Linked DNA regions of Homo sapiens: region 2 is linked to region 1. Evidence: fine-mapped expression QTL. A gene starts in region 1. The other region holds a variant in brackets. All regions are shown on one strand. Distances are between the middles of the regions.

Evidence for each region.
Region 2: its variant is fine-mapped to the expression of CSRP1-AS1 in uterus (GTEx, PIP 0.95).

Annotation. Positions count from the first base shown.
Region 1 is chr1:201,500,432-201,513,140 of GRCh38, reverse strand. It overlaps CSRP1-AS1 (CSRP1 antisense RNA 1), which reads right to left and starts at 5,928. Exons shown (of 2, transcript NR_160747.1): 1 at 5,722-5,928. It overlaps CSRP1 (cysteine and glycine rich protein 1), which reads left to right and starts at 6,018. Exons shown (of 6, transcript NM_004078.3): 1 at 6,018-6,071. LOC124904484 (a long non-coding RNA gene) reads left to right here. Exons shown (of 2, transcript XR_007066793.1): 2 at 3,140-3,417. RefSeq lists an enhancer at 716-925 and silencers at 1,076-1,155, 5,687-6,316.
Region 2 is chr1:202,356,652-202,369,360 of GRCh38, reverse strand. All of the region lies in intron 1 of PPP1R12B (protein phosphatase 1 regulatory subunit 12B), which reads right to left. It also overlaps the pseudogene CYCSP4. Among named protein-coding and RNA genes, the nearest start is that of PPP1R12B, 14 kb to the right of the region's middle. RefSeq lists enhancers at 4,304-5,041, 6,637-7,378, 7,379-8,121, 9,524-10,475. The variant T/C (reference allele first, on the strand shown) is at 6,956.

The sequences.
Region 1 (12,709 bases):
TTCACAAGTTCACCAGCAGGTGGCAAGCTTATTCGTGGTTTCTTGCAAACTATGGATTTATCCACGCACACATTCATAAAATACTGAGCACCTACTCCATGTAAGGCTCTGTGTGGCTACAAAGGAGGGTAAGCTACAATTCCTGCCCTCCAAGACCTTCCAGGTGAGTGAACTCAATGTTTCCTTAGCTTGTCTTTGGGTTGAAATAGTTCTTCAAAAGTCATCCAATCCTTTCTTCTGTCAGTGTAATTTAATATAATCGACCCTGATGGAGGAGAGGAGTCAAGAGTCTTGCCAAGGCCGGGTGCAGTGGCTGACGCCTGTAATCCCAGCACTTTGGGAGGCCGAAGTGCACGGATCACCTGAGGCCAGGAGTTTGAGACCAGCCTGGCCAACATGGTGAAACGCCGTGTTGCAGGGTTTCTACTAAAAATACAAAAATTAGCTGGGTGTGGTGGCGCATGCCTGTAGTCCCAGGCTGGGAGGCTGAGGCAGGAGAATCGCTTGACCCCAGGAGGTGGAGGTTGCAGTAAGCATAGATCGCCCCACTGCACTCCAGCCTGGGCAACAGACTGAAACTCCGTCTCAAAAAAAAAAAAAAAAAAAAAAAAGAGTTTTGCCGAAAGTCTGGTTATTTTCAGTCTACTTCACTGCTTTAAGTAGATTGGCCAGGTGATCATAGATAAGATCAGAGCAGTGAAGGTGGTGTGGCTAGGGACCAGGAGAACAGGGAGAAAGAGATTTTAAAGCAGGAGGAAAGCAAACTGATCAGTAGATTAGGAGCTGGCGTGATTGGAACTGGGCCTGTCAGAAAAGCCTCTCCTGAGCCTTCAGCCAGCTCCCTGTGGCCACACTTCCCTAGAGCCTGTCAGGCTCGGAACAGTGGAGCCATGCACAGCCAGCTGCCCGGGAGCTCCCTGCCGCCTGCTCCCGCCCTGAGTCCCCAGCTCCTCCTGCTTTCCCCTCCCCACACTTTGGCTGTGAGAGCCACTCCACAGTTTTGCCTGTTTGGGACAGAGGCAGTGGCTGCAGAGGGAGCAGGAGGGAAGTGACCTTACATCAATTTCAGGCCAAGGGGAGGGGAAGAGGAAGTGGTCATTTAAAAACCTATCTAGACTGTTTCACAGTGTTCTTAAGGACCCAACCCTGAGCCACCCCAGTGCATTTCTGAATATCACCTTTCAAGCTCCCCTGGAGCTTCACAGTGTAAATTTCAGCCTGAAAATCAGAAGAGATTTCTGGATCAGGAACCCCCTAGAGTTTTTATTTTGTTCCTTTCTAAATGGATTTCTCCTTTTCTTGCCTCTAAGCATTTTATTCTTATAACATGTATACACTGCCTTTTCCGATTTTCATTTGCCTCTGGCTGCCAAGCTCATTTCTCCAGCAAACCCTGAGAGATTCTAGGAATCTTCCTTAGAAAACATGAATACAGGGACTGAAAGCAAATGCTGGGCCTTATTCCACAAGCCCCCTTTGACTTGCCTCATCCTAGCCTAGGCACAGCCGAACAGTGCCAGAGCCAGGGAGAGCCTTGCAGATCACCCACGTGGGTAGGCGGGCCTAGTCATATTCCCAGGGGCCCACAGAGATACTACCCACCAAGCACGATACATTTCCTAAGAACTCCATTTCTCTGAACAGTAAGTAATTTTATTTATTTATTCATTTATTTTTTGAGACAGGGTCTCACTTTATCACCCAGGCTGGAGTACAGTGGAGTATAGTACGGCTCACTGCAACCTCTACCTCCTGGGCTCAAGCGATCCTCCCACCTCAGCGTCCCTAGTAGCTGGGACTACAAGCATGCCACCATGTCCAGCTAATTTTTGTATATTTTGTAGAGACTGGGTTTTACCATGTTGCCAAACTTGGTCTCAAACTTCTGGACTCAAATGATCCACCTGCCTCAGCCTTCCAAAGGGTTGGGATTACAGGTGTGAGCCACCGTGCCTGGCCAGTGAGTCATTTTAAACATTATCTTTTTATGAAGACAAATACAGTTATGTGCCAAGGAGAATGCAAAATTCAAATAAATTTTTGCAATAAACCCCAAGACTTCAAGGACTGGGAGTGGATTGATTCTGACAACACTGTGGGTTCCTTACATTTACTTCTTTGCTGTCAGAGGTACCTCAGTGGAAATTTTGGAGAATACTGAGTTAGTCCAACCTCCCATTTCACACATGAGGAAAACTGAGGCCTAGGCCATGGTCACAAAGCTACTAAGTTAGCTACTGCTGTAAGCCCTGGTCTCCTCACATGCAAAGCAGGGGGTAAAAATAGTCCTTACTTCATACAGCTACTGCGAAGATTAAAGGGGACAATTGTGTAAAGTACCTGACAGGTAGTAAATGCTTAATAATTATAATTATTCCTCATTATCAACAGTATTTTATTTGTTTTTTGTTTTTTTGAGACACAGTTTCACTCTGTCACCCAGGCTGGAGTGCAGTGGTTGGATCTCGCCTCACTGCAACCTCCACCTCCCAGGTTCAAGCGATTCTCTTGTCTCAGCTTCCACAGTAGTTGGGATTACAGGCACATGCCACCATACCCGGCTAATTTTTCTATTTTTAGTAGAAATGGGGTTTCACCATGTTGACCAGGCTGGTCTTGAACTCCTGACCTCAAGTGATCTGCTGGCCTTGGCCTCCCAAAGTGCTGGGATTAAGGCATGAGCCACTGCGCCAGCCATCATTAGTATTTTAAATCATAGATGACAGAGCTGAGACTCAAACTGCAAGTTTAGGGCTGGATTTTTTTTTTCTTTTTTTAGACCATTAGATGAGTAAACTTCTTGAGGTCAGGATCCAAATTATAGGCTTCCTTGTATTCCCAGAACCTAGAGACCAGCACAGAGTGGGGCCCCAATAAATGTCTTCTGAGTGAATGGTTGGATGGATACATGGATGAACAGGTGGATGGACGGATGGATGGATGGATGGATGGAGGGAGGGATGGATGGATGGAGAGACAGATGGATGAACAAATGGATGGATGGGTGAATGAATGAATGGATGGATGGACAGATGGATGGAAGGATGGACAAGAAGATCTCCAGCCCAGACTGGATCTCTAATTTCTCTGGGATGATGAGCAGAGCTAAGCCAGACACATTCCCTTACTCTTTCCTCAGCCTCACACTCAGGTCCTCTTCACTTGGGATCAATGCGGAAAAGAAGGGTTTCACCACAGGAGAGGAGAGAGAAGATGTAGCATCAGGATGCTGATGAGGGAGGAAAGAGAAGAAAAGATGCCAGAGGAAGCAGCAGACAAAGTTGGAAGCTGGAGGACAGGGGCCCTACTTCCTGCCTGTAACAGGCCCCACTTCATTCCTAGCAGCCATCAAATACCAACCCAGAAGTGTTGGGAAATAGAGTGCACAGAGAGAACATAAAGATACTGAAAAGGTTAGACATTTGTGAGAGTCCTGAGAAGCAGGTAAGCCCCTAAGTGTGCCAAGCCTCCTTCTAGAACCCCTAGCAGATAATTTATTGGTGATGAGCTCTGACTGCATTGTCTCTGCAGATGTGGGTGCTGCTGACCAGCTCGGGCCAGTCTAGATATGGTTATATAAATGAGGTCAGCCAGAATGAGAACCTCTGCAGAATGAGAATCTCTGCCTTAAGGATGTCCCAAGTATTGATGATGTTTACTGATTTTTCTGTCATTTCAACATCAGGCTTGTTCCTGTTTGCATGGTGGGTAACCCCAGCATCACCTTTGACTCAACTCAATCCCAAAGCCCTTCCTCATCCCTCAAGTCTTCTTTATCTGCAAATGTGCTATCTAAGACCAAGCCCAAGTAACTGGCAGCAGGCTGGGAGAATAATATAGTCAGAAGGTGAGAGGTTCTGGAAAAACACCAAACAAGGCAGGTCCTACTTGGCTTCATCTGTAGCTCTGCGTAGACAGCTCCTAAGACAAGTGACCTGACAGTCTTTGGGTGGAAAAGAGGGGTGACCATCTGCCCTGGACTGCCTGAGATAGTCCTGTTGCCTTAGTGTAGTTACGAATACTACCACATACCACTTACTATCCAAAGCATTCTGGTTTAGATGACACATTGTACAGCCATTCTGTTTATAAGGTGCTTTAAGATCTGGGAGAAATCCAAGTGTGACTGCAGTGACTGCTCTTCTTTTTCTGGATCTACCCTAAAGCCATTTCACAGCACAGGTTGGCATGTCCTCACAGGGAAATCTATCAACAGTCCCATGACTCCAGAGAGGACAAACCCAGACCAAAGAAGGTAATGTAGGAGTTTGCCCTTTTGTAAAATCCTGGGCAAAACTCCGAGGCTCATCTCTCCAAGATACTGAGAATTGAAAGGAGAGGGGGAAATCCCATGGGATCGCCATCTTTGGGCGGAAGCCCTTGGTCTCTGACACTGATGGTGGTTCTGCAGTTTAATGGACCTGTTTAACTATTGCTTAGTCAGTGCAGCCGTGACCAGAAATTCTTCTGGTTTCTCCTCCTTCATCTTGGTTGGGTCAGATGAAGATGGCCCAATCTGCAAGAAACACTGGTTGTGTGCTTCTAGACATTTTAATCTTGGAGGGCCTTGTTTATAGGATGGACCTGGCCAAAGGAAAGATGTTACTTATGGTAGAAAGCAAGAAAAACCTAGATAAACACTTTTTTTTTTGAGAAACACTCTTGCTCTGTCGCCCAGGCTGGAGTGCAGTGGTGCAATCTTGGCTCACTGCAACCTCTGCCTCCTGAGTTCAAGTGATCCTTCCACCTCAGCCTCTCGAGTAGCTTGGATTACAGGCACACACCACCACGCCTGGCTAATTTTTTTAATTTTTTTGTAGAAACAGGGTTTCACCAGGTCTCGAACTCCTGGGTTTAAGCAATCTGCCTGCCTCGGCCTCCCAAAGTGTTGGGATTACAGGCGTGAGCCACAGTGCCTGGCCAAATACTTCATTTTCTAGATCATAAGATGCTTAACTTTATTCCTGGCAAAAAGTTGATTCAGCAAACCAGGGCTTTAAGTGAAGCCGGTTGGGGCCTGAACCCTTGACACCTGCCCAGGGTGGAAGACATAGCAGCTGCATCTATGGGCCACCTGGGGTGTAGGGTGACCAGCTGGAGGCTGTGAGCTTCTCTGCTCCCTGAAATGCCTGCACGGGGCACTCAGGAAGGGCTGGGGACTGGGTGAGGAGGTGTGGACAGAATGTCCCCTGGAAACTGCCCCAGGGGCAGCTTGAGTGGCCTGAGCCTGTGTCTGTCCTACTGAAGGTTGGAGCCCCAGAGAAAAGCCTCTATGGAGGCACCCACTTTTCAGAACTGCTGCTTTTGCGGGAGAACACCTTTTTCCAGGTGTTGTCCTTAGGGTAGCAGGGAAGACTGGGAAAAACTGAGGGGCAAGAGCTGTTGGAGGGGGGAGTTACATTTATTGAGTGTCTATTACATGCCGGGTGCTGCTGAAGGTCTGCGGGTCCTACCGGATCTCCTTTTAGCCCCTCACATCCCTGTAGATTACACGCCGTTCACAGATGACCCTGAACCCAGAAGGGCTGTCTAGGCCCAGGGCCCAGCTAGTGAGTGGATGGGCAGAATCAGACCTGCCCTGGAAGGGTCTGTCTTACCCTGGCGCCCAAAATGTGTCCCTCACCCTCTGCCACCAGGACAAGTAAATTCGAGACACCCTTTCGTTAGGGGCTCAAGTTTATCATGGGTCTGACCTCTAAGGTCATATCTCCGCCTTCTCACCTGACAGACAGGAAACTCCTGAAATGCCCCTCGCACGTGCAAGACGTTTTCCGCGGTGGCGGCGACAGGGCGCACAGTGGGACCGCAGCACGAGCTCGGAGCACCCCCAGAGTCGGCGACTCCTGCCCCCGCCCCTGCCGGCCGGCCTTCCCGGGGCCTAGGAGGGCAGCACCGCCGGGCTTCGCGCCATGACATCAGCCCTGGAGTGGTGCAGTGTGCAAAGCCCACTGGTTGGCGTGGCCCGGGACACGCCTTCCGCGGAGCGGAACAAAACGGCGCGCAGGCCGGGCGCACCCAGCCGCCACTTCCGAGAGCGCCTGCCGCCCCTGCGCCGCCGAGCCAGCTGCCAGGTGAGTGCGCCCTGAGTCGCGCGGCTCTGCCCGCCGCGGAGGGGCGCCTGGGCACGCACTCAGCGCCTCCCGGTCTTGCCAGCCCCGCCGCAGCCCCGGGGCTGTCGCAGGCGGGGAACTGTGAGAAGTGACCGCAGTTAGCCCGGGCAGTGCTGCTCTTTTCTGGAGGCACTAGGTCCGTCCCCATCCCGGGCCTTCCTGGGCTTCCTGGACACAGTTGACTTCCGCGTGTGCGTGACCCAGGGCGACCCGGCTCCCCGCAACCGCCTGCAAGTCGGGCAGAACAATCGGCGATTCTGCGCGCCACTGACGCTCATTGTATGGCAGAGAGATGAGGGCATCCGTGCCACCCCCTCCCTCACCCTCCTGCTGGGGAGAAAATGCCCGCGGGCGGGGTGGGGCAAACATCTGGGCCTGACCTTGGACATCTGTGTCCCTGAGCGCAGGTGTGAGTTTTCCCTCTTGTGAAATAACTGCATGGAAACCTCTCCACTCCAAATCTTGGTGCTAGGTGGTGATGGTTACTGAAACCTGAAAGAGCCTGCAGTCAGTGTTTTGTGGCCTCAGTCCTTGAAAGCTGGGAAGTGATAAAGGGGCTGGTATTGAGCACATTTAAAGCAAATCACAATGTGTTAGCTAACAATCAGCCCTCTGAGGCAGGTATTGTATCTACTGGTACAGACTAGAGAATATTTTGCATGCTTCTGGTTCTGGTGCTGTTGTGAACTAACCAGGACCCAGGAATCGGCTGGAGCAATAGTGGGCTCAGGCTCTGCCTAGAGCCCTGGGCTCCAGCCACCCACCAGCTGCTCCCTGAGAGTGAATGAATGGGCAGGCTCTCCCCACGCTGGGATACTATCACAGTGGCACCGAGGAAATCCACTGGGCCCTGGTAGAAAGTATATCAGTATATCATGAAGAGGTGGCTTGGAGTCTTGGTGGGATTGTTTGGAAGGCAGAGTTTTGACTCTTGGATTTGCCACTTAACGCGCAGGTTTCCTTGGACAAACTATTTAACTTCTCAATGTCTCAGTTTCTTTCAGGGATGCTACTTGGGGAGCATATTACACAGAACCTCCAACACAGGAGTGATCTCTCAGTTACTGTCTTTCTTGTCCTCCCCTCATCCCTTGCCTTCCTCCCAGAAGCTAAGGAGGCTGGAGGTGCTGGTTGTCTCCCTCTGTCCTCTCAGACTGCATGTTGGGGATTTTCCCCAGGTGGGATTTGGGGATGGGTACTGAGCCTCCCCTCAACTGCTCTCACTCAACTGCTGCCTCCTGACTCTCCAGCTGGTTTCTGGCTACCTCTTTTGAGAGAGACTGTCCTCAGCCCTCAGCTGCTGGAGGGCAGCTTTTACCCATTGTTTCCTAAATCCAGCCTCCTCCTGCTCACGGTCTTCCAGTGAATGACTCTTTGCCTTGGAGAGGATATCCGGGGCGGAGGCAGTCAGACGAGGAAGGAAGTTTATCCTGCAGAGGGTGTAGTGTGGGTTAGAGGAGAGGGAGGAGAGAACTGTCTGCAAGGCCTGAGATGCCCAGGATGGAGGGTATGGGGAAGAAGAAGCAGGAGAGAAACTAAAGAGAAGGCCCATCAACTCTGCAATTGGCCTGCTAATAAAATGGGAAAAACAGGGGTGCTGTGGCCTATTTGCCTGTGGTCTGTCTTAGCACCTGCCTTCCTGGCCCAGGTGTTTGCTCTTTTAATTGCACACATGTGCATCTGCCTCTGGAGCTAGTGAGTCCTGACTGGGCCAGAGTTGCAGCCTGGGAGTGTAGTGACACTTGACTGAGTGATCAGCAAACATTTGATGAATGAGTGGGGTAGCAATGGTCTTTCAGCTGAGTTGGCCTACGGGATACTCATAAACCTTGCAAATAGTTACTAGCCAGTTTTTCCACTTGGGTAGATTGACAAGCAGGTGAGAGAAAAAAGGCGTAGGTTTTTTTTGGGCTTTTTTGTGTGTTTTTGTTTTGAGGCAGTCTTGCTCTGTCACCCAGGCTGGAGTGCAATGGCGTGACATTGGCTCACTGCAACCTCTGCCTCCTGGGTTCAAGCGATTCTCCTGCCTCAGCCTTCCAAGTAGCTGGGATTACAGGTGTCTGCCAATATGCCCAGCTAATTGTTTGTATTTTTAGTAGAGACGGCATTTCGCCATGTTGGCCAGGCTGTTTTTGAACTCCTGACCTCAGGTGATCCACCTGCCTCGGCCTCCCAAAGTGTTGGGATTACAGGCATGAGCCACTGCGCCCGGCCTGGTGTTTTTTTTTTTTTTGGAGACAGCGTCTCACTATATTGGCCAGTCTGGTCTCGAACTCCTGGCCTCAAGTGATCCCCTCCCTGTCCCCACCACCATCTCAGCCTCCCAAAGTGCTGGGATTACAGGCATGACCCACTGCGCCTAGCAACATAGTTTTTAATTCACTGTCCATCCCTGGTGTGGGAAGCAAATTGGGAAGGCTTTTCTGGCAGGTTGTTAAAGTTTTAAATATGTATGTAAGCCTAGCTTATTGTGAAACGTTGGCTTGCTAGATGAAGACACATGCGTTAAATATTTTGGGATCCAAAGAGGTGCTAGTGAGAATAAGACTTTTTCCTCCAAGTCAGCCATTTGGCATTACTCAGGGCATATTGTCAAATATCAAAAGAGATACAAACCTGAACGATAAGTGTTAGAGTTGGCCTCTCCTTAAGATAAGGATAACCAGATATCTGCACTTGCAGTGTACCAGACAGTGTGAGAAATACTTCACATGTGTTATCTTGGACAATTTATGAGGTAGCTACTGATGCTCTCCATTTTACAAATGGAGAAACTGAGGCTCAGAGGTAGTAAGAAACTTGCTCAGGATCACAGCTGATCAGTTGTGGAGCTGCCATTCAAACATAAGCTGACTGTTTCCAAAACGTATGCTCAGTCACTACCTTATTATTTTTCTTTGCTCCTCTACATTTCCTTTTTCCAGATCAACTCACTAAGGAAATATCTGCCATTTGTGAAACACATCAGCTTTACAAGGTGCTTTACAGTGGCTTATAAACTATTTAAGGAAGATATCTTTCACTTGGATGGATCAGGGTTAGAACTCCTGACCTCCGGGTTTTCAGTCTGTTGCATGGCCAGGTAGGAGCAGAGGGGACCCCTGAGAGTTAGTTCCCAGCCACTAATGGATATGCTTTCACCAGCTCTGCATGTTTGAGTTTCAGAGCCAGGTTTGCAGAAAGAAAACAAGCCTGGAAAAGAGCGTGCTTGAGAAAGAGAGAGCTAGCAAAACTTGAGGGGAGGGCAGAGAAGGTGAGGTGGAGGGGTCCTGGGTTCCGACTGCTGTTTCTAGTTGTCAAGAATTTATATGGTAATGACGTGCCTGTACTACGCAGCTACCCAGGAATGTGTCTGACGCCAGCACTGAGTAATTCCCATGTATGGTAAAGTGTGTAAATACGGGGGCAGCTAGCATTTCCAGACTCTGGTATTTCCAGTGCTTCCCCAGGGCCAGAAGGCAGCGTCTGAGTCTTCAGCGGTGACAACAGGGGAAGAAATGGAAGGTTAGCAGCTGGAGCTCAGCCCCAGCTAGGCAGCCAGCACCCCCTACCCCCGACTGTGTGCCTGGCTTTCTTTATGCAGGGGTGGCGTGTGTTGGTGCTTCCTGGGATGTCAGCTGCAAACGACCTGTGTTTTTAAGGCCTAAGTGCTAATGTGTTTTAACTTGTAAAAAATTAATCAAAGAAAAATCATTCAGACCATTTTGTTCAGCATGGAATAACCAACATCATTACAGATCTGGATAAAAGCAAGGAAACCCCATCTGTTAATTTGTCTATGAGGCTTTATTATAATACAGGATTTCCTGTAGAAGTTTTGAAATACTACAAAGAAGTCATCGACCTCCATTTCTACCTGTGTTGACCTTCAGACTTCTTTTTTTTGAGACAGAGTTTCGCTTTTGTCCCCCAGGCTGGAGTGCAGTGGCACGATCTTGGCTCACTGCAACCTCTGCCTCCGGGTTCAAGCAATTCTCCTGCCTCAGCCTCCCAAGTAGCTGGGATTACAGGTGTGCACCATCACACTCAGCTAATTTTTTTTTTTTTTTTGTATATTTAGTAGAGATGGGGTTTCACGCTGTTGGCCAGGCTGGTCTCAAACTCCTGACCTTAAATGATCCACCCACCTCAGCCTCCCCAAGTGCTAGGATTATAGGAATGAGCCACTGCGCCCTGCAAACTTCTGAACTCCAAGAGTAGGGAGCTCTGCTCTAGAAGGCACTGGGGGCAAGTGGGGAAAGGGAGAGACATATACCGCCCTTGTCAGCTCACAGTCTCACAAGGGCCACTGGACATGGATTTGAAAAGAGAAAGCTCATTCAATAGAGAGAAGGATTCCTGACCTAGAATGACAGTCAAGTTCTGGAGGCCCATGGGGCCTGGATTGATGGTAGCTCAGTGATGCTGGTTACCTTTTCAGAGAGGCGGGTCATGTGCACGGTTCTGAAGGAAACATGAGGTGGGACATGGAAAGCTGAGGCCAAGCCTGCCCCATCTCCATGGCAGCCATTCTCCCCCTACCCGTGACCCTGAGCTTCAGGAGAGGCTGATTTCCTGAGCTCTCAGGTGTCACTTCTAAGACTTGGCTCTGAGCCCTGACCAGCCCAGCCCCCTCCTCTCTCTGCCCTCAGCTGCTCTCTGGACACTGGGGCGTGGAGGCAAAAGCCGAGCTGCAGATTGGAAGGGATGCCAGCCCTCCTGTCCACCTGGCAGATACCAAGCAGCTCAGCTAATGCGAGGGAGCTAGATAAACATCTGACAGGTTTCTACTGGAGCAAGTGGATGGGGACTTTAACCCTGTGCCGTCAGTCACTCTTTGGCCCTAGGGAATAAATGATTTTGGAATGGGAGAGATGGGATTTTTCCACTGTAGAAATAAAGATATGGGATGGTTTTGAAGGGTTTGATAAGAAGGGGCTTGCCTTCAGACACTGGTGGCTGGCAGTTAGGGATTTTACATCTCTGCGATGGTTCCTTCAACCTGTCACCTGAGCCAGACTTTATTTATTTATTTATTTATTTATTTATTTATTTATTTTGAGACTGAGTATTGCTTTATTGCCCAGGCTGGAGTGCAGTGGCAAGATCGCTGCTCACTGCAACCTCCATCTCCTGTTTCAAGCAATTCTCATGCCTCAGCCTCCGGAGTAGCTGGGATTACAGGTGCCCGCCACCATACCCGGCTAATTTTTGTATTTTTATTAAAGATGGGGTTTCACTACATTGGCCAGGCCGGTCTCGAACTCCTGACCTCAAGTGATCCGCCTGCCTCAGCCTCCCAAAGTGCAAGGATTACAGGCGTGAGCCACCACACCCAGCCGAGCCTGACTTTCATGAGATTTGGGGTGACTGAGAGTCTGTGACCTTTTTCTTCTCCTTTTGCTGCTGCTGTAAGAGCTGCCACCTTGGCTTTCTTGTCTCAAGGCTGAGGATCTGGGTACAGTCCTAACTGGGGATCTGGGTACAGTCCTAATGGGACAGCCAGGCTAGGAAGATGCAGCAGCAGACACAGCAGGCTTCTAGCCGCCAGCCGTTTCAGGAAAACAGCTGACCAGGTGTTTCCAGCCATTCAGTAGAAAATTCAAGCTCTGTTCTCTGTTGAGATGGTCAACAGAGTGAAATGGGACATCACAGACAGCTGGGGGGAGCTAAACCCCAAAGAAGGGCAAGTAACTTGTCCCAGACTCATTCGCTGGGCTAGCAGATGAATCAGGAGTTCCTGGCCCTATTTGGCATGGTACTTCTTAAGCCTCGCTCCTTCCATATGTGGACTAGCTACATGTGGATGGCTGGCCCACATCTAGCAGTGTGGAGTCGACGTATGACTGGTCCAGTCGTGTGAGTGGTAGTCAGAGGGGCGGGCACTTACAGTGTGCTGGCCATCACTTCCATACCTCCTCATTTAATCCTTACAGCTGAATTTTAGGGAGTCCATATACGGTCCATTTTAGAGACAAGCAAATTGACACTCAGAAAGGAAAGTAACTTGCCCAAGATCATTCAGCTAGGAAGGGGTAAATCCATATTGATCGAATCCCAGCTCTTGTTTTCCTAACCATTGACCTGTACAGCCTGAACTCTGACCTTGGGAACTTCTCTTGTCCCAGCCTTCTGCAGGGCCTCTGTGCCGGAGAGCTGGGAAGGCAATTAAGAAGGAGCCAAGTGTCCCTCTAAGGCACTCCATGAACTCTGAGAAACAGGTTTCCTTTTAAGGCAATTCGGCCTCCCTACAGGCAGAATTTGGCTGTTGGAGAGAAGGGCAGAAAGGGAGGAGGTGGAGTGAAGACTGAGCCCTGCCTGTTGCCAGGGTTCCCTCCAGCTGAGCCTCTTCCCCACAGGCAGGGTCACCTGGAGGGGTCCTCTTGTGGGCAGAGGGGGACAGGACCTCATCCACAGGCACTGCCTGAAACCCTTCCTGGCTAGGGATAGAGTCATCACTTTTCATCTCAAGGCAATAGAGCCCTGTCCTTTCACTGGGCTCTTGAGGGGAGACCCCCCACCCTCGCCCTAACTAAATGACCAGGCTCAAAAGAGCAGCCTGGCTAAGAGACGTCCTGAGCAGATTTTCCTTACTGGCAGGTCCTTGGGTTTCACCCATT
Region 2 (12,709 bases), 860 kb before region 1:
ACAGTAATTCTGATTCAGTAAATGGTATCACTGTTTCCCCCTTCTAAAACTATGATTGGACTTAATTCGTAGTGTTCAACTTTTCACAAAGATGGTGAATGCCATCTTAAAACCTATTAGAGATTGGCTTTATATTTAGATTTATATAACTAGCTATATGAATATATTTAAATACTGGGGAAATGTCTTCACTGTCTCAGAACCAAGCAAGACCCACCTGTGTTCTGCGTTCACGTGCCTCTTAAAGGCAAAGACTAAAGATAAGGTAACAATGTCTACTTTATATTTCTGGTCTTAACTATGTCAATTTAATTAGAATTCTCTGTGTCTAAAATGGTTCCTTGGCTGGGCATAGTGGCTCATGCCTGTAATCACAATACTTTTTTGGGGCTGAAGTGGGAGGATTGCTTGAGGCCACAAGTTGGACCACATAGAGAGACCTCATCTGTACAAAAATTAAAAATAGCCAGGCATGGTGGTGCATTCCTGTAGTCGTAGCTACTCAGGAGGCTGAGGTGGAAGGATGGCTTGGGCCCAGGAGTCAAGGTTGCAGTGAGCCATGATCCTGCCATTGCAACCCATCCTGTGTGACACAGTAAGACCCCATCTCAAAATAAAATGGTTCTTTTAACTTATTAAAAGGCATTTTATATGGCTTATATATATCAAATAAAGAATAGTTAATATTTCTTGAAAAAAAAAAAGAAAAATACAGCCAACACTAATTCTAGAATGATAGAAATTATAACAGTGGTAGCCTGGGGGAGGATGAAGGGGTGGTGGGTAGAACTTTCAAAGGAGGCAAAAATGTCCTATTTCTTGATTTGGGTGATGGTTACCATATTAGGCTATTCTTGTGTTGCTATAAAGAAATACCTGAGGCTGACTAGTTTATTAAAAAAAGAGATTTAATTGTTTCACAATTCTGCAGGCTGCACAAGCATGGCACTGACATCTGCTTGGCTCCTGGGGAGGCCTCAGGGAGCTTTTACTCACAGTGGAGGGCGAAGCGGAGCAAGCACATCACAGGGCGAGAATGGGAGCAAGGTTGCGGGGGGCAGTGCCAGACACTTTTAAATGACCAGATCTTGGCCGGGCGCAGTGGCTCACACCTGTAATCCCAGCACTTTGGGAGGCCGAGGGAGGCAGATCACCTGAGGTCAGGAGTTCAACATCAGCCTGGCCAACATGGTGAAACCCTGTTTCTACTAAAAATACAAAAAATTAGCCGGGTGTGGTGGCAGGCGCCTATAATCCCAGCTACTCGGGAAACTGAGGCAGGAGAATCGCTTGAACCTGGGAGGCGGAGGTTGCAGTGAGCTGAGATCACACCACTGCACTCCAGCTTGGGCAACAAGAGCAAAACTCCGTCTCTAAAAACAAAAAAACAAAAAAAAAACAGATCTCCTGAGACTGCACTCACTATCTTGAGAACAGCACCAAACCATGAGGGACCCTCCCGTATGACCCACACACTTCCCACCAGGTCCCACCTCCAACATTGCAGATTACATCTCAACATGAGATTTGCGGGGGACAGATATCCAAACCATATTGGTTACATGGTTGTATACGTTGTCAAAACCCATCAAACTGTAGATTTAAGTTCTATGCATTTTACTATATGTAAAATTTACCTCAATTTAAAAAAATGAGAAGGTGAGGAAAGTTCATCTGAAATTTTTAGATATCATGGCCTGGAAGTGCTTCACTACAAAGGTGACATTTGCAAGCCATGTGTGTAGCTGATGGAATAGCATTCCAGGCAGAAGGAAAAACAGATGTGAGGCCCTTAAGCATCTATTCCTAGCAACTGGAGTTTTTGAGAAACAAGGAGGACACTAATGTGACTGGAATGGGTTGAACAAGGGAAAGACAAGTACTGAGAGCTAATGGGGGATCAGATGATACAGTGTCTGGTAGGTCACGGTAAGACTCACTAAAGATTTTTATCCTCATCTTAGTCTAAAAGAAAATCACCTAAATGCCTACTAAGAATAAGGCACTGTGCACAGACAGCTTACATAAAGCTTATGTAAGTAGCAAAACCAGGATTAGAAACCAACTATGTCTGATTCCAAAGCTCATAATCTTAACCACTTTGCTTTACTAACTAAACATAACAATACTCAATATTTACTGAATGCTTACTATCAATACGTTAGAGCTAAAAGGCTTTATATCAGATCTTCCCAATCATTTATTGTTCTAAAATGGCTTATAAGTAGTGTAATGTAAAGATCTTCTGAATAAAATTTTGTATTGTATTAAAAATGTTTTGCAACCAACTAAAAATTCAGGATGGGTAAAGTTATATTTAATTCATATAGTTCTCTACATAAACTTCCTAATTATAATTTTGGTACAGAAAACTATGCACATGACTTCACTATATGGAACCACTTAAGTACCATAGTTTTGGTACATAAAACTATGCACATGGCACAGTACAGTGACTCCATGAAATAGCCCCTTCTCTTGATCTTCCTGTTGAATCATTTTAGTCTATATTTTTATTTTAGTCTACATTGTTTAACAATCAGTGAGGTTCTACGTTTTGCACCCATATGTAAATGAAGTTTTCTATTTAATTTGCTCTAATAGCACCACAATTTCTAAATGTATGTTTGTCATCAAAAGCATTATAATCAACATCATCATTATTAATACATCTGGTATTATTAGGTGTTCCTAAATAAAACATAATTTTGTAGTTTCTTAGTCTATTTATTTAATATTCATACATTTTTATTCTGTTGCTCAATGTCTGATTTTTAATGTATTTTGTTATCATTACTGTATTAAGAAAACACAACTGATTTTTTTTTTTTTTTTTTTTTTTTGAGATGGAGTCTCGCTCTGTCTCCCAGGCTGGAGTGCAGTGGTGCGTTCTTGGCTCACTGCAACCTCCGCCTCCCAGTTCAAGCAATTCTCCTGCCTCAGCCTCCCGAGTAGCTGGGATTACAGGCATGTGCCACCATGCTTGGCTAATTTTTGTATTTTTAGTAGAGACGGAGCTTCGCCATGTTGGCCAAGCTGGTCTCGGACTCCTGACCTCAAGTGATCTGCCCGCCTCAGCCTCCCAAAGTGCTGGGATTACAGGCATGAGCCACCACACCCAGCAACAATGAATTTTTATACCAAATTTGCAAATATTCTCTAGTTTACCAGGGGTCTTACACAAATGTCGTCTTCTGTGTATACCATGACATGAAGGAGGTAGGAAAACAATGCTTTAGCTATTACTTCACACTGAGTAGGTGCAGAATTCTGATAATATAAAAATCTCAGTAGTAATGGAATGCTAAAAGAATCCTATCTCTATAAAACTATGTCTCTAAGAGGTTTTTTTGTGGGGGGGCGGGAGTGGAGGGACAGGGTCTTGCTCGGTCACCCAGGCTGGAGTGCAGCGGTGCAATCATAGTTCATTGCAGCCCGAAACTCCCAGGCTCAGGTAATCCTCCCGCCTTAGCCTCCTGAGTAGCTGGGACTACAGAGGTATGCCACCATGCCCAGCTAATTTTTGTATTTTTGTAGAGATGGGGTTTTGCTATGTTGCCCAGGCTAAGATCAAGCAATCCGCCCACCTCAGCCTCCCAAAGTGCTGTCATTACAGGTGCTAAGAGGCTTTTAAAAAAATAAAGAGGTCTAAATGGAGAGGTGAGCCAGGATTTCAGAAAACCAGCACAACCTAGGTAGAAGACTAAAAGCTTCTGAGTCAGACAGATGTGAATTTAAATACCAGCATGACGTGTGATCCCTAGGTTAGGACAAATTACCTTCTTTGATTCTTCTTCCTCATCATTAAGTGGAATAAACCACCTATTTGGTAGAGCTGTTGATGTAAAGATAATTTTTAAAAAGCAAAATGCATAGCAACACTTGGTATAAAGCAGCACTCAGTAAAAATTACTTTTTTTTTTTCTTTTTTAGAGACTGTCTCACTCTGTTGCCTAGTCTGGAATGCAGTGGTGTAATCTTGGCTCAACCACCCTGGCACAAGCAATCTTCCTGCCTCAGCCTCCTGAGTAGCCACAACTGCAGGCGACCACAATTGGCTTTTTTTTTTAGACTTAGGATTTCCCTGTCTCTAAAAATGCCCAGGCTGGTCTCAAACTCCTGGCCTCAAGTGATCCTCTCGCCTTGGCATCCCAAGGTGCTGGAATTACAAGCATGAGCCACTAAAGCTGGCCACAGTACTTATGGTAATTTTAACATACCATGAGTTCAACTATGTTAAAATATTTGCAAAAGCTAAGACAGCCTGAGGAAGAACAAAGGAAAAAAAACCAATTAATATGTTAGGGTGGTATTTGTACTAATTGTTTTTTGTTTTAAAAAATTTTGCTGGCTGGGTGCGGTAGCTCATGCCTGCAATCCCAGCACTTTGGGAGGCTGAGGTGGAAGGACTGCTTGAGCCCAGGAGTTCAAGACCTGCCTGGGCAACACAGTGAGACCACATCTCTACAAAAAATTTTAAAATGAGGCCGGGCGCCGTGGCTCACGCCTGTAATCCCAGCACTTTGGGAGGCCGAGGCGGGCCCATCACGAGGTCAGGAGATCGAGATCATCCTGGCTAACACAGTGAAACCCCGTCTCTACTAAAAATACAAAAACTTAGCCGAGCATGGTGGCGGGCGCCTGTAGTCCCAGCTACTCGGGAGGCTGAAACAGGAGAATGGCGTGAACCCAGGAGGCGGAGCTTGCAGTGAGCCGAGATCATGCCACTGCACTCCAGCCTGGGTGACAGAGCAAGACTCCGTCTCAAAAAAAATAAATAAATAAAAATAAATAAATTAATTAAAAAATTAAAAAATGAGGCAGGAGGAATGCTTGAGCCCAGGAAGTCAAGGCTGTAGTGAGCCATGATTGAGCCGCTGCTCTCTTACCTGGGTGACAGAGTAAGACCTTGCAATGTTATCATGTTGCTTAGTAGTAGATACATATAGAGATGAATAAGTCAAATGTAAAACCAATTCTTAATAGAATCCTTAGATTAGTTATCTTGGAACATGAATAATGACCCCTGATGTTTCTATTACTTTGAAGTTTTTGAAAGAGGAATACAACTATAAGGTATCATCCTTCTTCAAAAGTTCTTCAAAAGAATTTAGAGCACATTTTGCTTCTTCTCAAAGTACTAATAATTTGCAAATAACTACATTTCCATAGACAGAAAAGAATATCAAGCAGAAGTTTGATAAATAGAACATTTCATTATATCTTATTTCTGTACCATGCTTAAGGTATTCCTTTAGCTTTTTTCTAGGCCTCATATTTCTCATTTGTATTAATAAAATGGGCCAGGCATGGTGGCTCACACCTGTAATCCCAGCACTTTGGGAGGCCAAGGCAGGCATATCACTTGATGACAGGAGTTCGAGACCAGCCTGGCCAATATGGTGAAACCCGTCTCTACTAAAAATACAAAAATTAGCTGGGCATGGTGGCGTGTGCCTGTAGTCCCAGCTACTTGGGAGGCTGAGGCAGGAGAATCACTTGAACCCTAAGGCAGAGGCTGCAGTGAGCCAAGATCGCACCACTGCACTCCAGCCTGGGCAACAAACAGGAGACTCTGTCTCTAAATAAATAAATAGAATAAAATAAAATGGCACAGGTGGGTCAAATGGTGTCCTCTAATGTTCTTTTTGCTATAATATCCTGGAACTTCATAATCTTCTAATAAAACAAACGCATATCTGACAGTCCTGCAACTCTGTACTTTCAAGTGGTCCTATAATAGTCTTTCACCCTAGTGGTGGTCCCCAGAGCTGAAGACATTACAGTCTCTTCTCACAGAGCCAGGGGACCCAAAGGGAACTAGAAATTCCCAGGAGAGATAGACAAAACGATTAATGATTTGGAAACTAAATTAAAGAATGCACATGTTTATCCTTATTAGAGAAGGCTAATGACAAGGTCTTGATTATCTTAAAACATACAAAGGTAAATGTGTAGATAATGATCAATACCCTTTTCTCCACTTTTACTATGAACAGATTAATAGGAAATGGAATCAACATGAAGTACAAGCAATATAGACCAGAATAGATCTTTAAAATTATGAGTTTGTCAGTAACTGTGGGATGCCTGAGAGCAAGACACAGTTGTATGCCATGTTTGTATCCCAGTATACAACAGCATCTGGCATCCAGGAAGTGCTCAATACAAATGTGCCCCCCAAAATTAATAACAGATCATTTGACTGTTTAAAGATTCAAACTACAGGCTGGATATGGTGGCTCATGCCTGCAATCCCAGCACTTTGGGAGGCCAAGATGGGTGGATCACTTGAGTCCAGGAGTTCCAGACCAGCCTGATCAACATGGCGAAACCCCATCTCCAATAACAATACAATAATCAGCTGGGCATGATGGTGCATGCCTGTAGTCCCAGCTACTCAGGGGGCTGAGGCACAAGAATCACCTGAGCCCAGTAGGCAGAAGTTGCAGTGAGCCAAGATCGTGCCATTGCACTCCAGCCTGGGCAACAGAGGGAAACTCTGTCTCAAACATAAATAAATAAATAAATAAATAAACATTCAAACTACAGAAGTGCATTATAGAGACAGGACAGAACATTTATCTTGATATTAAGAAAAATGAAGATAATCTTCTTGCAATAATTTAGGTAATGAGCAGAAAAATTAAATTTATAATTTTAATTTTTCAAAGTTATTTCCTTATTACAAAAAAAAAAAACAAAAACCCTGGGCCTTGCTGATTCTGTCATGAACTGGCTATAGCACACACAGAGCTGAAGCAAGGCAGTCTCCACTCTCAACTGAAAACTGGTGCCAATGATAAAGATGTTGCCTGCTTTAAAAAATACCTGTTAAGCACTTAGAGTTCTAGCAGTCAAATTCTCCTAATACTAGCCCTGTACGGCAATTGTGAAGTTGGAATGGATGCGGCTCACCACTAGAGTCCTTGTGCTGTAGGAACTCTTCAACAGG[T/C]GAAATGATTCTTAACAGATGGAAGGAATCCTGGTCATCCTTCAGAATCACTTTCCATTACCCCTAGTGATTTATAATGAGGTGAGTTATTCTTTTGACCTCATTTTTCATGCTATCTACTGTCAAGGAGGAACAATTTAAACATGGGGAGGAAAATCAATACAAGAGGAATAATTACAAAACAGTGAAGCTGCATCCACAGGACCCAAACACAATCTGTTTTGGCATTTTAACGTCACATTTCATCGCTAGACCAACCAACTTTAAAAAAAATAAAAATCACTAACTAAAAAAAGAAACCTGGCAAAAATGTTGCCAAGAAGCAGGAAAAAAAAAAAAAGTAATCTGCCTCCCCTGAAATGCCCGCATATAAATAAAACAGTTCATAAAACCATACATCCCACTGTGAAATTCACATTCAATTAGAAGGGCCAATTTCTCTTAGGCCTCAAAGAGCACAACAAAAGCCAGCCAATCAACCCAATCTCCATATGAATGCCCCAATGTCACTTCCATTTTCTAAGACAAGCACATCATTTGCCCACAGTTGACTGCCCAAAACTGATGTAGCTAGAATGGACACTCTTCCTATCTCTTATAAAGCAGGTCTCTTTCTTCTCCTTGCACCGCCAAGTTACTATTTTTTTTTTAGTTTTCTTTGGAGCGTTCCCTTTGAAGTTTTCTTTCATAATGGACCTCAAGGGCTGGCAGTTGACTTAGGGAATAAGAAACCATATTACTGAACTGGAATTCTGAACAATATTTCAAAATAAGGGGAATGATATGGTTTGGATATTTGTGCCCTCCAAATTTCATGTTGAAATGTGATCCCCAATTTTGGAAGTGGGGCCTGGTGGGAAATGTGTGGATTACAAGGGCAGCTCCCTCATAAATGGCATGGTGTCCTTTCCATGGCAATGAGTGAGTTCTTCTCTTCACAGGAGATCTGATTGTTTAAAAGAGTATGGTACCTCCCACCTCTCTCTCTTTCTCCTGCTCTATGTGATGCACCTGCTTCCCCTTTGCCTTTTGCATGACTGTAAGCTTCCCGAGGCCCTCACCATGAGCAGATGCTGGCCTCATGCTTCCTGTATAGCCTGCAGTACTGTGAGCCAATTAAACCTCTTTTCTTTATAAATTACCTAGTCTCACGTATTCCTTTATAGCAACAAAAACAGACTAATATAGGGAACTTCAGTTAAGAGTTAATGGAGGCCGGGAGCGGTAGCTCACAACTGTAATCCCAACACTTTGGGAGGCCGAGGCGGGCGGATCACAAGGTCAGGAGATCGAGACCATTCTGGCTAACACGGTGAAACCTCGTCTCTACTAAAAAAATACAAAAAAATTAGCCAGGTGTGGTGGCGGGCACCTGTAGTCCCAGCTACTCAGGAGGCTGAGGCAGGAGAATGGCATGAACCCAGAAGGTGGAGCTTGCAGTGAGCCGAGATCGCGCCACTGTCTTCTAGCCTGGGTGACAGAGCAAGACTCCGTCTCAAAAAAAAAAAAAAAAGAGCTAATGGTAAAGATATGAAATGACAGTAGAAAAAGTTTACTCCACTGCCAATCACGGAAAATATTTACATACGAAGGGTACTACTAATCTCAACATTAGGCACCTTGTCAAGCCTTGCAACAGTCAATACACTAAACCTATGTTAACTATTTTATTCACAATTTACTTTTTTTTTTTTTTGAGACGGAGTTTCACTCTTGTTGCCCAGGCTGGAGTGCAATGGTGCAATCTCGGCTCACTGCAACCTCTACCTCCCAGGTACAAGCGATTCTCCTGCCTCAGCCTCCCAAGTAGCTGGGATTACAGGTGTCCACCACCAGCCCCAGCTAAATTTTTTATTTTTGGTAGAAACAGGGTTTCACCATGTTTGGCAGGCTGGTCTCGAACACCTGACCTCAGGTGATCCTCCCACCTCGGCCTCCCAAAGTGCTGTGATTACAGGTGTAAGCCACTGCACCCGGCCAATTTACATTTTTTAAGCTGATCACTGGTAACCCAATTAGAAGCGCAATACAAGGAGCTTCTTGTGATGTGATGATAATTAGAATAATTCACTAATTAATGGAATTCAGGTCTAGTCAAGACTGGCTTGAAACTTCAAAATTTTTGCAGGCCATCAATGGCCACTAAATCACAAAGAGAGATAACCTGACATTATTTGCCTTCTCATGGAAGTACATACCACCACTTATGATGTACTCTTACCAAAAAATTGGAATCTGAATCAGACCTAATCTCTAATTACTAGTTTATAGAAAACACGTGGGACAAAAGAACACCTTAACACCACAAGCAAGCAGTCAGAAAAATCTAGGTTGTAGAGAAACTCTAAAGTACAAACAACCCAGGTTTTCAACAAATAAGGTAAGAGAAAAAAAATGAGGAGGAAACCATAGATTAAAATACGTATCAATCAAAACAGACCTTATTTGAATCATGACTTGAATAAACCAACTGTTAAAACACACACACACACACCTGTGAACAATCAGGGAAACTTAAACACTACTAAAATATAATTTTAAGAAACAAGATTTTGACTTTTAGGTGTGCCAATGAAATTTGTTTTTGTTTTTGTTTTTGTTTGAGACAGAGTCTCACTCTGTCACCCAGGCTGGAGTGCAGTGGCGAGATCTCAGCTCACTGCAAGCTCCGCCTCCCGGATTCAAGTGATTCTCCTGCCTTAGCACCGCCCCCCACCCCCACCCCCCACCGCCAGTAGCTGGGATTACAGACACACGCCACCACGCCTGGCTAATTTTTCGTATTTTTAGTGGAGACAGGGTTTCACCATGTTGGCTAGGCTGGTCTCAAACTCCTGACCTCCGGTGATTCACCTGCCTTGGCCTCCCAGTGCTAGGATTATAGGCATGAGCCACCACGCCCAGCTGATTTTTTTTTAATTTAAATTTCTACGTTCTAGAGATATATATCGAAATATTTACAAATAAAATATAAGCTGGGCACGGTGGCTCATGACTGTAATCCCAAAACTTTGGGAGGCTGAGGCAGGTGGATCACCTGAGGTCAGGAGTTCATTTGAGACCAGCCTGGCCAACATGTGAAATCCTGTCTCTACTAAAAATACAAAATTAGCCGGGCGTGGGGGCACATGCCTCTAATCCCAGCTACTTGGGAGGCTGAGACACCCTGGGAGGTGGAGGTTGCAGTGGGCCAAGATCGCACCACTGCACTCCAGCCTGGGCAACAAGAGTGAAATTCCATCTCAAAAGAAAAAAAAAAATTATGTGATATCTAGGATTGGCTATAAAATAATCCAGTATACTGGAGATGAGGATCTATAAATGAAACAAGATTGGCCATAAGTTGATCACTTTTGAGAATTCATTATACCATTCTCTCTACTTTTGTATCTTCTATTTTGAAATATTCCATAATAAAATGCTTAAAAGAGAGTCACTAGACCAATAATTAATACAGAAAAACCAGATACATATATCATGCCAGATATATCATGAATATTTAGAGCATGGCACCATAAAATATTCCCCAAATTTGCATTAGATTAATATTCTAACAGATTATCACTGTGTCATAACATTTAAGTATACTAAATATAAAATCATCTCTAAATTTTTGTATAAACCTATTCCATAACTATAATGAAGTAGAATATTTCATTAAAAACCACATGCAAGTCAATTTCCAATACTGAAAACTCAAGTTTCAGTTTTTTTTTTTTTTTTTGAGACGGAGTCTCGCTCTGTCACCCAGGCTGGAGTGCAGTGGTGCCACCTTGGCTCACTGCAACCTCCACCTCCCGGGTTCAAGTGATTCTCCTGCCTCAGTCTCCCGAGTAGCTGGGACAACAGGCGCGTGCGACCACGCCCGGCTAATTTTTTGTATATTTAGTAGAGACAGGGTTTCACCGTGTTAGCCAGGATGGTCTCAATCTCCTGACCTCGTGATCTGCCTGCCTTGGCCTCCCAAAGTGCTGGGATTACAGGCGTGAGCCACCGCGCCTGGGCAAAGCTTCAGTTTTTCAATTGAATTGCCTCATGAAACAAACATAAACTCTGCATGCCTGATAAAACTTTAAGCCCCCAAATTTTACTCAAACTGGTTACAATCTAAGATCAGAAGAAACAATTTTTTTAAATGACACTTCAAAAGCAGGAAAAACCCCAACATATTCACAGACAAAAACAACATCAACAAATTGGGCAAGCACTCAATTAGCAATCCAAATGAGGCTTCAATTCCTTGTCCTATATGACATTCTGGGCCAAGGTCTTAATCTGGATTTATTATTACTATGTTGAACCATTAAAGATTTATTAGACATCCCAAACCTCCATATTTCACCATCTTAGAGAAGATATATATGTAATTCTCCTCCATAAGCATAAAATAGTCTCAAATACTGATAAATATAGTACTCCCCTGACACTCCTCAAGAGCCAGAATGCTAGAACAGAAATCGGTTATGTAGCCAATTTCCTATTATAAGTTATAATAGTAACCAACTATTCTGGAGACCAATCCCAAAATTCAAGTTAGTTTCTAAATTGTATCTACTGCTAAGTAAAAGTAACAAGCAGCACAGAATCAGATACACAGTAGACACTCAAGAAATAAATGTAAGAGAATGGCAGAAAAAACTGTTTATTGGTACTAACCTCCCTATCACTGTTCCCCCAAGGCTGCCTTCCAGTGGAAGTGCTAATGAGTGGGAAATGGGCCAAACTAGACTGAGAAGTAAAATAAACTAGATAAGCAGCCATCAGTAATAGGGACATAACTTTCTTGCCCCTATTATCAGGTTTAATATCCTAAAATATTCTTAACTGATGAATAATGAAACCACCTGAACTAGCCAGAATTCAGCTTTTAAAGTGTCTTGCCACATATTTTGGGCCCTCATTTAAATTACAATTATATTGATGGAAAATCTATATTTTTTCTCCCAAAAGTCAACAGAAAGACAAGTTATCCTTAATGCAAAAAAAAACTTCATATAACCTCCACAAAAGTCTTCAAAAATATCTCTACTGAAAGTGCTCTTTCAAAGTTTAAATGACCAAATCCAACAGTCTTTTTACAGGCCTTCTCCTCAATTTCCTTTTACATTATTTACCATCCATTCCTTGAAATACCTCAATATCACTGTTTGTCGGTTCTTCTCTGTATTAGTTTCCTATTGCTGCTATAACAAATTACCATAAACTTAGTTGCTTAAAACAACACAAATTTATTATCATAGCATTCTGGAGGTCAGAAGTCTGAATCATGGCCAGATGCAGTGGCTCACAACTGTAATCCCCAGTGGCTCACACCTGTAATCCTTGGGAGGCCAAGGCGGGTGGATCACCTGAAGTCAGGAGTTTGAGACCAGCCTGGCCAACAAGGCAAAACCACGTCTCTACTAAAAATACAAAAATTAGCTGGTTGTGGTGGTGGGCGCCTGTAATCCCAGCTAATAAGGAGGCTGAGGCAGGAGAATCGCTTGATCCCGGGCAGCGGAGGTTGTAGTGAGCCAAGATTGTGCCACTGCACTCCAGCCTAGGGGTCAAGAGCAAAATTCAGTCTCAAAAAAAAAAAAAAAAAGTCTGAAATCAGTCTCATTGGGCTGAGTTGTCAAATTGCTGGCAGGGCTGGTTCCTTATGTGGAGGCTCTGAGAGAAGAATCCACTTCCTTGCCTTTTTCAGCTTCTAGGGTCCACCTGCATTCCTTGGCTCACAGAACCTTCCTGGAATCCCTGCAATCTCTTGCTTCC